2 separate regions of the Homo sapiens genome follow, and region 1 is linked to region 2. Evidence: fine-mapped expression QTL. Tissue or cell type: esophagus mucosa. Region 2 holds a variant in brackets; the other region holds the start of a gene. All regions are shown on one strand. Distances are from middle to middle.

Region 1 (5,144 bases), 62 kb after region 2:
GGGAGGAGCCCCCGTATTGCCCGCAGTAGGCGCCCTACTGGACGCTACCGTAATTGCCGGCGCGCGGGTCCACCGGGGTCAGCGGAGCCCGGGAGCCGCGCCAGGCGTCGGGGCCTCGAAGCCACAGGGCGGGGCCGACTCCACTTGCTGCAGAGGTGGGACCAGTGGGCGCGGCTCGGGACTCGGGGGCGTCGACTCGTGAACTGCGGGTCTCGGAGCAGGAGCCCGGCGGTTCGGTTCCGTTGCGTGCGGCTGCCCGGCGTGGCCCATTTCACAGATGGGCCTGACTCGGGCAGGTGACGCTAGGAGGACGCCCTGAGCTCTGTCTGCTCCCGCCCCGCCCCTGCCCCAGGGCCCGGGCACCTCCAATGGCTCTGCGCCACTGCCCGGAAGGCCCCCGCTGGGGCCCAGAGTGTGGCCCACATTTGGCACCTCACTGGAGGGAGCGGCACAGGCCCTTCTGTCCCACGTGGCCAGGTCACCCCAGGACCCACCGCTGAGCCAGCCGAGCCTGGCATAAGGGTCACTGCAGGCCAGTAGGGGGGACCCGTCCGGCCTGACGGCTGGGCTGGGATCCATAGAGCCCTCTGGTAGCTGCCCCTCCAAAGTAAAGTGCCCCGCTCCAGTCAGTGGGGTCTGGCCTGATCGTGCAGGCCACATGGCTTTCTGGGTGGCCTGGATGGCGGGCCCTGCCCAAGGTCACATGGGGTCGTTACCAAGCCTGCCTTGAGACCAGGCCTCCAGGTGCCCACCCCAGACTCTGTCCACACCATGGGGCCCTGGGGGACAGACGCTGCACGTGCCACGGCAGAGCCCCCATGCACTCAAAGCCTCTCTGGGGGCAGACACCCCCCCACGGCCTCCTAGCACCTCCTCAGTTCCTTCCCTCCATGAGGGAGTCGAGCCCAGCCGCCTCCACACCACGCTGGCGGAATAGACCCTCCTTCAGCAGGGTCAGGCCAGCACCCACCTGACTTCCAGGCCTGTGCAGTGAAGCTGGGACCTTGGACTCCCCGGCCCCAACAGACACAAGACCTCCCACCCTTGTGCTCAGCATGGACAAGCCCCTGGGCCTTGGGGTGGGCCAACTGCCATTTCCCGCCCAGCAGGCCTGACTCTGGCCATCACCAGGAGAGGGACCCTTTCAGCCCATGCCTCTGGGACAGAGAGGAGGACAGCCGCCCCTCGGCTCCCCCCATCGTCCCTCACCGACTCCAGCCACCCCTGGAGGCCCCGGCCAGAGCTAAGGGCTTCCCTTCCACTCTGCGGCTCCTGTCTCTTGACTGGCCCAACACCCAGGGAGGCTCCTGACCAACCCACTTTTCGTATAGGGAAACTGAGGCGTGGGTTAGGAAGTGGGAGGCTACCAAAGGCTGCGCCTGGTTTTCCCACGAGCTGGGGGCCAGGGGTGGAGGTAGGGCGAACCCAGGGAGCCCAGCCTGGCTCTGGAGAGGGTCCCCCACTTCCCTGCACGGTCTCGGGCTGTTAGTCATTGCCCAAGGGCGGGTGTGGGTCGGGGAGTGTTCAGGGTGTTGCGAACAGGGGAAAGCGCCACGGCCCGAGCGCAAGTGCTCCCCACTCCCTCGGGGAGGCCACCCATACAGGGAGGGCTGCAGCAGCCCCACCAAATATAGCCCGCGCCCCCCGCCACCGCGGACCGAGCTATTTATACCCGGACCGGGCTTGGCCGCCGGCGCAGCCATCTCCTGGCCCGAGCCCAGCCCCTGAGGGCAGCCCGACGGGTGGGCGCCGGGCCGGACCGGGGGAGACGAGACTGGGCAGCCAGGTATGCGAGGGCGCGGAGGGGCGCGGCTGGCTCTCGGGAGCCCTCGGTGGGGCCCGCTCGGGGTCGAGAAGGCTAGTCCATGCCCCGGGCGCCCCCGGACCTGATGGACAAAGTGGGCGGGGTGGGGGTGAGAGCGCGGACCCCGAGGTCGCCCCCTTGCCCGGCACGGGGGAGCTCCTGGGCCCCGGCCCGCGCGCGAGCATCGCGGCCGCGCCTACCTGCCGCCGCTGGGCCGCCTCAGCCCGCCTCTCGCCGCCTCTCGCCGCCTCTGCCCGCCTCTGCCGGTCCGCTCCGCGCCGGGGGCGACTTTAAGTGCTCGGGTCGCTGGCGCGGCACGTCCCCCGCGCACGTCACCGCCTGGCGCCGCCCCTGCGCGCCCCGCCCGGACCCCGCGCCGCCTCCGGACGGGCTCCCGGGCCGCAGCTCCCCGACGGCGCGTCCCGCAACCCCGCCGGGCCCAGGGACCCCCCCAACCGGAACCGGCCCCGTCGGCGCCCCCGGCCCGGAGCTGGCCCGCCCCCTCTGCTCCTCGGGACTGGGTCTTCCCGGCCTCGCCTCCCCCGGAGTCCAGGCTCGCTTCGCCCCTCCGCCCCGCCGTCCCTCCGTTTCCCCGCCTCGGAGCGCAGCGCGGCAGGTCCCAACGTCCTCCAGGGCAGCGACCCCTCGCCCCCCAACGCCGGGGCCCCTTTGGTGGGGAGGTGCGCGCGGGTCCCGTGGGGTTCCGGCCGCCTGGCTCAGCTCCGGGGCCCACATCCTCCCTCTCTGAGGCCACGTCCGACCTGTCCCCCTTCAGACCTCCGCTTCCTCTCCGGTCCCGGTGCGGACGGCGGCTCTTCCTGGCTAGGGGAGCGGCCCGCGGCCTGCGCTGCCTGGATGTGGGGCACGGCCTCGCCCTCCCTGAACTTCCGTTTCCCCAGGTGGCTCCGCGCCCTGCGGGGCCCTACAAAGCCACCGACTCCAGCCCTGCGCCCCTGCCCCGCCCCTCTCGCGGCCCAGAACCCGACGCGGAGGCCGGGGCGGCTCCCACCTTCGGGGAGGCGAGGGCTGCCCACCCGCTGGACCTCGTGAGGTGCTTCTCCCAGCCTGTTTTCTCTCATTTGCAACATGGAAATAACGGGCCGCTTTGGGTGCTGAGGTTTGAGGTGGCTCCAGGGAGTAAGGCCTTTGTTGGCCTGGACCAAGGAGTCTAGTTGTCAGGGCCACCCTGCCAGGGCCACAGGAATGCTTTAACTGGCCCCTCCCGGACCCGGGGGCTTCGGGGACCGAGGCACTGGTAAGCCCGTGCCTTCACACACAAAGGAGGCAGGGGGTATCAATGGAGGACCCCTCCAGAGGGCAAGGGGAGGCCACCCCTGACAGTGAGGCCGTGTGGGCCTTGGCTCTCCATCTGCAGCCCAGCCTTGCGGGACATCAGGTCCAGTAAGGCCGCCTGTTCTTTCTATGTAATGTTACAAGCCCACCCTCCCGCTGGCATTCACAGAGGCTGGGTCTGGCCCTCACCCCTACCTGGGGCCCAACCACCCCCATCCCCAAACATCAAGATGAGGGCACGTGCCTGTGAGCAGAACACAGGCCTGTGGCAAGTGGTGAGGGGGCCTCCAACTTCACAGATGAAGACTCTACTTAGTTGGCCCGTGCTGCTCCCGCCCAGGGCAGGTGGTGCTCCCGCCCAGGGCAGGTGGTGCTCCCGCCCAGGGCAGGTGGTGCTCCCGCCCAGGGCAGGTGGTGCTCCCGCCCAGGGCAGGTGGTGCTCCCATCTTCCTGCACCAGGCGATTCATCAGTTTCTGAGGAGGGAGAGCAGCAGAGGGGTGCGAGGCACCGTGGACAGCTGCGGGAATGGGTCCCCTATGGGGTATTGCCTGCCGGGGAGGCGAGGGTACCGTGCTCCCCATCCCAGATTGTTGAGTCACCAGGCCTGCCAGCTGGGCTTGGGGCCCCCACTGAAGCCACCGAGACACCTTCCACATCTGCCTACAGCTTGGCCCTGATCCCTGAACCCTGAACCCCCACCGTAGAGCAGCAACAGGGGGAGGGAGACAGAGCCAGAGAGCCTGGGACCTCACTGCCCCCTCCTGCCTCCTGAAGGACAAAGGGGCGCCCCTGCCAGGGCCAGGTTTTCTCCCAGCTGGGAAGACGCCCAGTCATCCCTCCAGGGGTCCCAGGGAGCACCTGTGGTTTGGTTCTGACCCCCAGGCCTGGCCCCCTCTTAGGCATGGCTTCCCCTGGGTGTGGGCCCCAGGACTGTCCACCCAGAGCTGGGGTGGAGCCTCCCTGCCCTCAGAGGGGAGGGGAGCAGGCAGGCCAGTCAGCACTGGCTCCCAGCAGAGAGGTCAAGTCTGTGGGCTTTGACTGGGGGGACTGGAAGACCACAGAGTGGTCACAGTGATGTGATGGCTGCTGGGGGCTGGGGCTGGGGGCCTGCCAGGTTGTTACCCAGAGGAAACAGGCAGCGCAGCTATCAAGCAGGCCACTTGGGACAGCTCACCCGGAGCCTGGACAGAACAGGACGCTGTGGGGTGGGGCCAGAGCCTCCGAGACCCTGGGCCCCTCTCCGAGGATTCTGGCACTCCGGTAGCATGAGGTACCCCTGACCTCCAAGTGCTCAGCTTTTAGAAAGGCCCAGCAGTTGGTGGCGGGGGGCATTCCAGGCCTGGCACCAGGGCCCAGGTGGCCAGGCTCCATCTGACACAGGGCTCCAGGGGCACCTGGGCACGGAATACCACTTTGGTTTCGGGTAAGATGCCTTCTGGGGGTCATGCCCCTCCCTCAACAACCCTGGATGTGTCAGAGACAGCGATGGTGCAGGGGAGAGGCACTTCTGGCCATGGTGCGATCCCCTGGCCCGCTGGGGGTCTGGAGCTGCGGGAAGGGGTGGGAAAGGCCACGTGTGTCCGCATCTCTGCACCCCACTCTGGGTGGTGTTGGGAGCACCCACCCCACACCTGGCTCCAACGCTTGCTCCCCCACAGTGGCCCTGGGTCAGACCCCAGGCCCAGGCCGCCCTTTTCTGCAGGAAAGGAGGTGGGGGTGTGGACAGGTGGCACCATCCCTGGCCAGTGAGCAGCTTCACAGGACGCCCCCCTCTGACCCCACAGCCCCCAGTCTTGACTTCTCCCCCAGACCCAGGTGCCTCCACCTGCCCCTGGCTGCCCCAACTTCCTTTTGTTCCCAGTTCCAGCTACAGGGCCCTCCAGGCCCTGGAATGTCCTCCTAGGGGCCTGGCCCCCAGGTCCTTCCCACCCTGCTCCCTGGCAGGCTTAAGCTCCCTGGGGTGCGCAGTCCCACCTTTTCCAAGAGCAACCTTTGTGGGAGGGGGGCGGGCAGGAAGGGGAGGCTGGGATCTGCTTCCTCCCCATG
Region 2 (5,144 bases):
CGCCCTCTCCTCCCCTCCCCTCCCCTTCCCTCCTTCCCCCACCCTCCCCTCCCCTCCTTCCCCCACCCTCCCCTCCCTCCCCCCGTCCCCTCCCTCCCCCCGTCCCCTCTCCTTCCCGCCCTCCTCTCCGCACCCTCTCTCCTCCCCGCCCTCCCCTCCCCGCGCCCTCCCCTCCCCGCGCCCTCCACTCCCCTGCCCGCGCCCTCTCTCCTCCCCGCCCTCCCCTCCCCTTGCCCTCCTCTTCCCTCCTCTTCCCTCCTTCCCTCCTCGCAGCCCCAAAACCCGCGACCCCTCTCCGACCCCTCCCGGCGCCCTCCCCTCCCCGCACCACCGCACCTTCCCATCTCCCACCCTTCCCAACGCCCGCCTCGGCAGGGATGCGGCCCTAAGACTTGCAGGAAGCGCGGGTTCGACCCCGGCGCCCTAGCAACCCCTGCCCTCGCCGCTCTAGAGAGCGGGTCTCCTGGCCGGGCCCTCCTGGGTCTCCGTAGCCGCGATCGCCAGACGCGGCGAGCGGAAGGGCCCAGCCCCGCCCTCTCCGGGCACATGACTCGGGCCTGGCCATTCACAGTGCAGCATCGTCCAGCCTTAGTGATTGGGCCATCGGAGAGCACGTGACAACAGCTAGGCCAATTAGAGCTAGGCCAATTAGAGACCACCCGTTTCTATTTATGGTGGAGCCGGCGATCGGCGTGCGGTTGGAAGTGGTGTCCCTGAGGCACCTGCTCGCCCTTTTCCTGCGCCTCCGCAACGTCGGCTGCGAATGAGTCTCCTAAAGGACGCCCGGGAGGATCGGAAACAGCCGAGTCCCGGCGCGGGCAGTGTCCTGCGCTCCTCCCCGGGGTCTGGCCGGGGTGGGCCCGAGGCCCCCGGGCCCCCGGTTACCGCCGCGGGCGCGTCTGCGTCCTGACCCGGAGGGACCCGCGGGCCGGGCCGTACCAGGTGGCGCTGGGGTTAGGGTTGCCGCCACGGAAGCCCAGCTCTGTGGACGCCTGCAGGGCGCCCTCACCGCCCGGGACGGGGGACCCAGCCCAGCCGCAGGGGAAGGACTGGGGCTCGCGGGGACGGAGGGCGGTTAGGATTGCTGGATACAACACGGAACGCCCAATTAACGTTTTTGTTTAACGTGTTTTTTGTAGAGATGGGGTCTCGCTATGTTGCCCAGGCTGGTCTTGAACTCCTGGCCTCAAGCGATCCTCCCGCCTCGGCCTCCAGAGTAGCTGGGACTAGAGGCCTGAGACAGCACGCCCGGCTCAGTTAAGATTTTAAAACAGATTTGTTGAAATATAATGCACTTACTGTGAAATTCACTTATTGAAAGCTTATGGCTTTGCCGTATATTCGGAGATGGGCGGCCATGCTCACTATCTCATGTGACACCGTTTCTGTTGCCCCAGAAAGAAACCCCGTGCCCATGAGCGTTCACTCCCCACCCTGCCCACGGCCCAGCAAATCTGCTTCAGCCCCTATAGATTTACCTCTACCGCGTTGGGCATGTACTAAAAATTGTTTATCTGAAGTACAGATTTATCGGCATCCCATATTTTTATTTGCTAATTCTGGCCATCCTAAAGGTGGCATCGCTCGCTCTGACCAAGGAAGCCTCAAGCAGGCAGGCACGAGAGTCCATCCCTAGCCCTGCCTGGCCCCTCAGAGCCCATCCCTGGCCCTGCCTGGCTCCTCAGAGCTGTCCCTGGCAGGCTCCGGGCTCAGGTGCGCTGCCAGGAGGGGGGCAGTGAGGGCTGTTTTAGGTATAACAATCCTGGATATTTCCTGAGTATCTTGTCCGAATGGTTCCTCTTTCTGTATTTTCTAGCTTCCTCTGTATATTTAAAAATGGTCTTATTGGTGTGTTTCTTCACGACATTTCAATTTTTTGTTATCATTTCCCACAATTTCAGTGATGCAAGATGGTCCTTTCTGAGCAGAGCTCCCCTCGCTCAGTGCTCCTTTGTTTCACGTAGAAGATCTTCTTGAGGGGACTGTGTGGCCAGTGCAGCCCAGGCCTCCCCACCCTGCACCGTTCAACAGAAGAGCAGCTGACGCAGGGGGCCCTCAACATGCTCACCCAAAAGTCAGCGAGATTCTGCACCGGCCCACTAGCCTTCCAATTGTAAACTAAAAATAAAATCTTGGCCAGGCACGGTGGCTCATGCCTGTAATCCCCGCACTTTGGGAGGCAGAGGCAGGTGGATCACCCTGAGGTCAGGGGTTCGAGACCAGCCTGGCCAACATGGCAAAACCCCGTCTCTACTAAAAATACATAAAAATTAGCCAGGCGTGGTGGCACACACCTGTAATTCCAGCTACTCGGGAGGCTGAGGCAGGAAAATCGCTTGAACCTGGGAGGCAGAGGTTGCAGTGACCTGAGATCGTGCCACTGCACTCCAGCCTGGGTGACAATGAGACTCCATCTCAAAAAAAAAAAAGAAAAAAAAATCCTAAGCCCCCCAACTACTGAAAAGACCCCTCTTGGCCAAGGGGTCCCAGAGACACCTTAAAAACTGAGTTTCCAGCCAGACGTGGTGGCTCACACCTGTAATCCCAGCATTTTGGGAGGCCAAGGCGGGTGGATCACCTGAGGTCAGGAGTTCGAGACCAGCCTGGCCAACATGGCAAAACCCCGTCTCTACTAAAAATACAAAAAAATTAGCCAGGTGTGGTGGTGGATGCTTGTAATTTCAGCGACTCTGGAGGCTGAGGCAGGAAAATTGCTTGAATCTGTTTCAGTGAGCCAAGATCGTACCACTGCACTCCAGCCTGGGCAACAGAGTGAGACTCCATCTCAAAAAAAAAAGCCAAAAAACTGAGTTTCCAGCCGTGACGGGATGGTAGGTCAGAGGCACCTCATTCTACCCCCTCCCTTGTGTGGTTTAGACAGAATTGACCGGTGTTCATGTTAAAATAGAGATCATAAGACTAAGAACAGGCTCTGTGGCAATAAAATACCAAATTATAAACAGGACCTCAGGCCAGGCCTGGTGAAAGTAAGTCGTGCATCCCTGCACGTGAAGAATCAACTCTGTTCTAAAGGCCGCAGGTTTCTCTTTTTCTGTAGCAGCTAAACAAGCACTAGCCTCAAGATAAGCAGCATTGAAACAACCGCAGCTCCTCCCCCTG[C/T]CGACCCTGGCCCCACACCCCTGCTCCACCAGCCGTAACTAGAGCTTTCCTTGGACAAGAGACTCGTTTCAGTAACTTTTCCCTGATAAGAGACCCTGACCATAGACGGGTTCTGGCTGGTTTACAGAGATTGCACCCTCATGTGCCTTCATGTCCTGAAAGTACTTTTTGAGGTATACCACCTAATTGTAATACGCTTACATGCTGCCTTCACCCCAAGGTGAACATGGGTCATATGTAACATGCATGTTTATCCAGCACACGTGTCCGAATAAACATGCATGTATATTCGCAACGCCTCCTGTAACTTGTTGAGTATGTATACCTGACCAACCCATTCGGCTTACATTCCTGTCTCACCGCACCCTCCCTCCAAGTACCTGTCTCTGGCCTTAGGCTGGAGGCCACACTTCCTAGCCTGTCAGAATGGCCACCTTACAGGCTATAAGACTTTATAAGAAGTAAAGTCTCCTTTCTGAGTGTATAGATCTTGTGATTTTTAACTTAACACAATCCACAGCCGGTTTCCTTCTTTTTTATTTTTATTTATTTTTTTTGAGATGGAGTCTTGCTGTGTCCCCAAGGCTGGAGTGTAGTGGCGCGATCTCTGCTCACCACAACCTTTGTCTCCCGGGTTCAAGCGATTCTCCTGCGTCAGCTTCCTGAGCAGCTGGGATTACAGCCAGTTAATTTTTGTATTTTTAGTAGAGATGGGGTTTCACCACGTTGGCCAGGCTGGTCTCGAACTCCTGACCTCAGGTGATCCATCTGCCTTGGCCTCCCAGAGTGCTGGAATTACGGGCATGAGCCACCGCACCTGGCCCTTCTTTCTTTCTTTGGCTGGGCCTCCCGAAGAGGGTCCCAGGTGTAGAATATGGTCAGAACAGGCAAGGCTCCTCTGATTTCATCTGTTTCTTTGTTATTCAGCCATCCTTGCTGTCATTCCTCTGACTCGTAGCCAGCCCTTCCACTGCGTTTTGTGTACATGTGTTTTTTCCATCTTGAGATGGTAGATTTAAATGGCCATTGTTGTTACCACTATTAGCAAGCTAGGAACGACGGGGGAGAGCCTAACCTGCTATGGGAGCAATCAGGAACCTACAGCAACTTTTTCCTTTTTATTTTTAGATAAATGTTTTATTTTAGAATAGATCTGGGTTTCCAGATAAGATGTGAAGATAGATAGGAGGGCACTGTTGTTAACATCTGACATTAGTTTGGTGTTTGTTATGTAATTAATGAGCCAATACTGACACATTGTAATTGACTAAGGTGTGCACTTGATTCCTATTGCCTCAGTTTCACCTGCTGTCCTTTTCCTGTCCCAGGAGCCCATCCTGGACACTCAGTCCTCGGGTCTCAGGCTCCTCTCAGCTTCTCTCATGTTTGATGACCTTGGCAGTTTTGAGGAGCGCTGGCCAGGTGTGTCGGAGGGTGTCCCTCTGTGGGGATTGGTCTGATATCTTTCTCCTGGTTAGACAGGGGATATGGGTTTTGGGAGGAAGACCGCAGGGTTGAAGTCCCGTCCTCATCGCAGCCTACCAAGGGTGTATGGTCTCCACCTGCCGGGTCACAGGTGGGGCTGGCCTGGGTTACCTGGCCAATGCGGAGCCTGTCAGGTTTCTCCACCACGAAGTCCCCCTTTCCACATGGTGCCCTTGGTGGGGAAGTCAGTATTTGCAGCACCCAAGGAAGGTGTGGGGGTTAGGCTCCCCTCCTTAGGGGCAGAGTGTCTACACAAACTACTTGGAATTCCTTTGTGATTCATCTCTCCTCCCCACTTATTTATTTACTCAGTCATTTCCTTATATCGGTACGGACTTGTGGAGATTTATGCTGCAAGTTATGAGCCAACACGGTGCTGGTTTTGTTTTTCGATCACTTCTTCACCTTCTAACTATATTACCAGGGCTGCCACAGCTAAATGCCACAGCCTGGGCAGCTTAAACAACAGGTGTTTCTCTTCTCACAGTTATGGAGTCTGGACGTCTGAGATCAGGCTGCCGGCAGGGTGGGTTCCTCCT

Evidence for each region. PIP is the estimated chance that this variant, and not a neighbour inherited with it, causes the effect. A credible set is the group of variants that fine-mapping cannot tell apart.
Region 1: SLC16A3 starts here. The variant in region 2 is the best candidate, but not a certain one, in a credible set for the expression of SLC16A3 in esophagus mucosa (GTEx, PIP 0.56).

The regions. Positions count from the first base shown.
Region 1 is chr17:82,225,967-82,231,110 of GRCh38, reverse strand. SLC16A3 (solute carrier family 16 member 3) reads right to left here and starts at 2,069. Exons shown (of 5, transcript NM_004207.4): 1 at 2,005-2,069. RefSeq lists silencers at 1-143, 1,604-1,653, 1,664-1,823, 1,944-2,263, 2,424-2,563 and 2 more.
Region 2 is chr17:82,288,321-82,293,464 of GRCh38, reverse strand. It overlaps LINC01970 (long intergenic non-protein coding RNA 1970), which reads left to right and starts at 651. Exons shown (of 2, transcript NR_135639.1): 1 at 651-942; 2 at 1,902-3,419. RefSeq lists silencers at 716-965, 1,006-1,055. The variant C/T (reference allele first, on the strand shown) is at 3,121.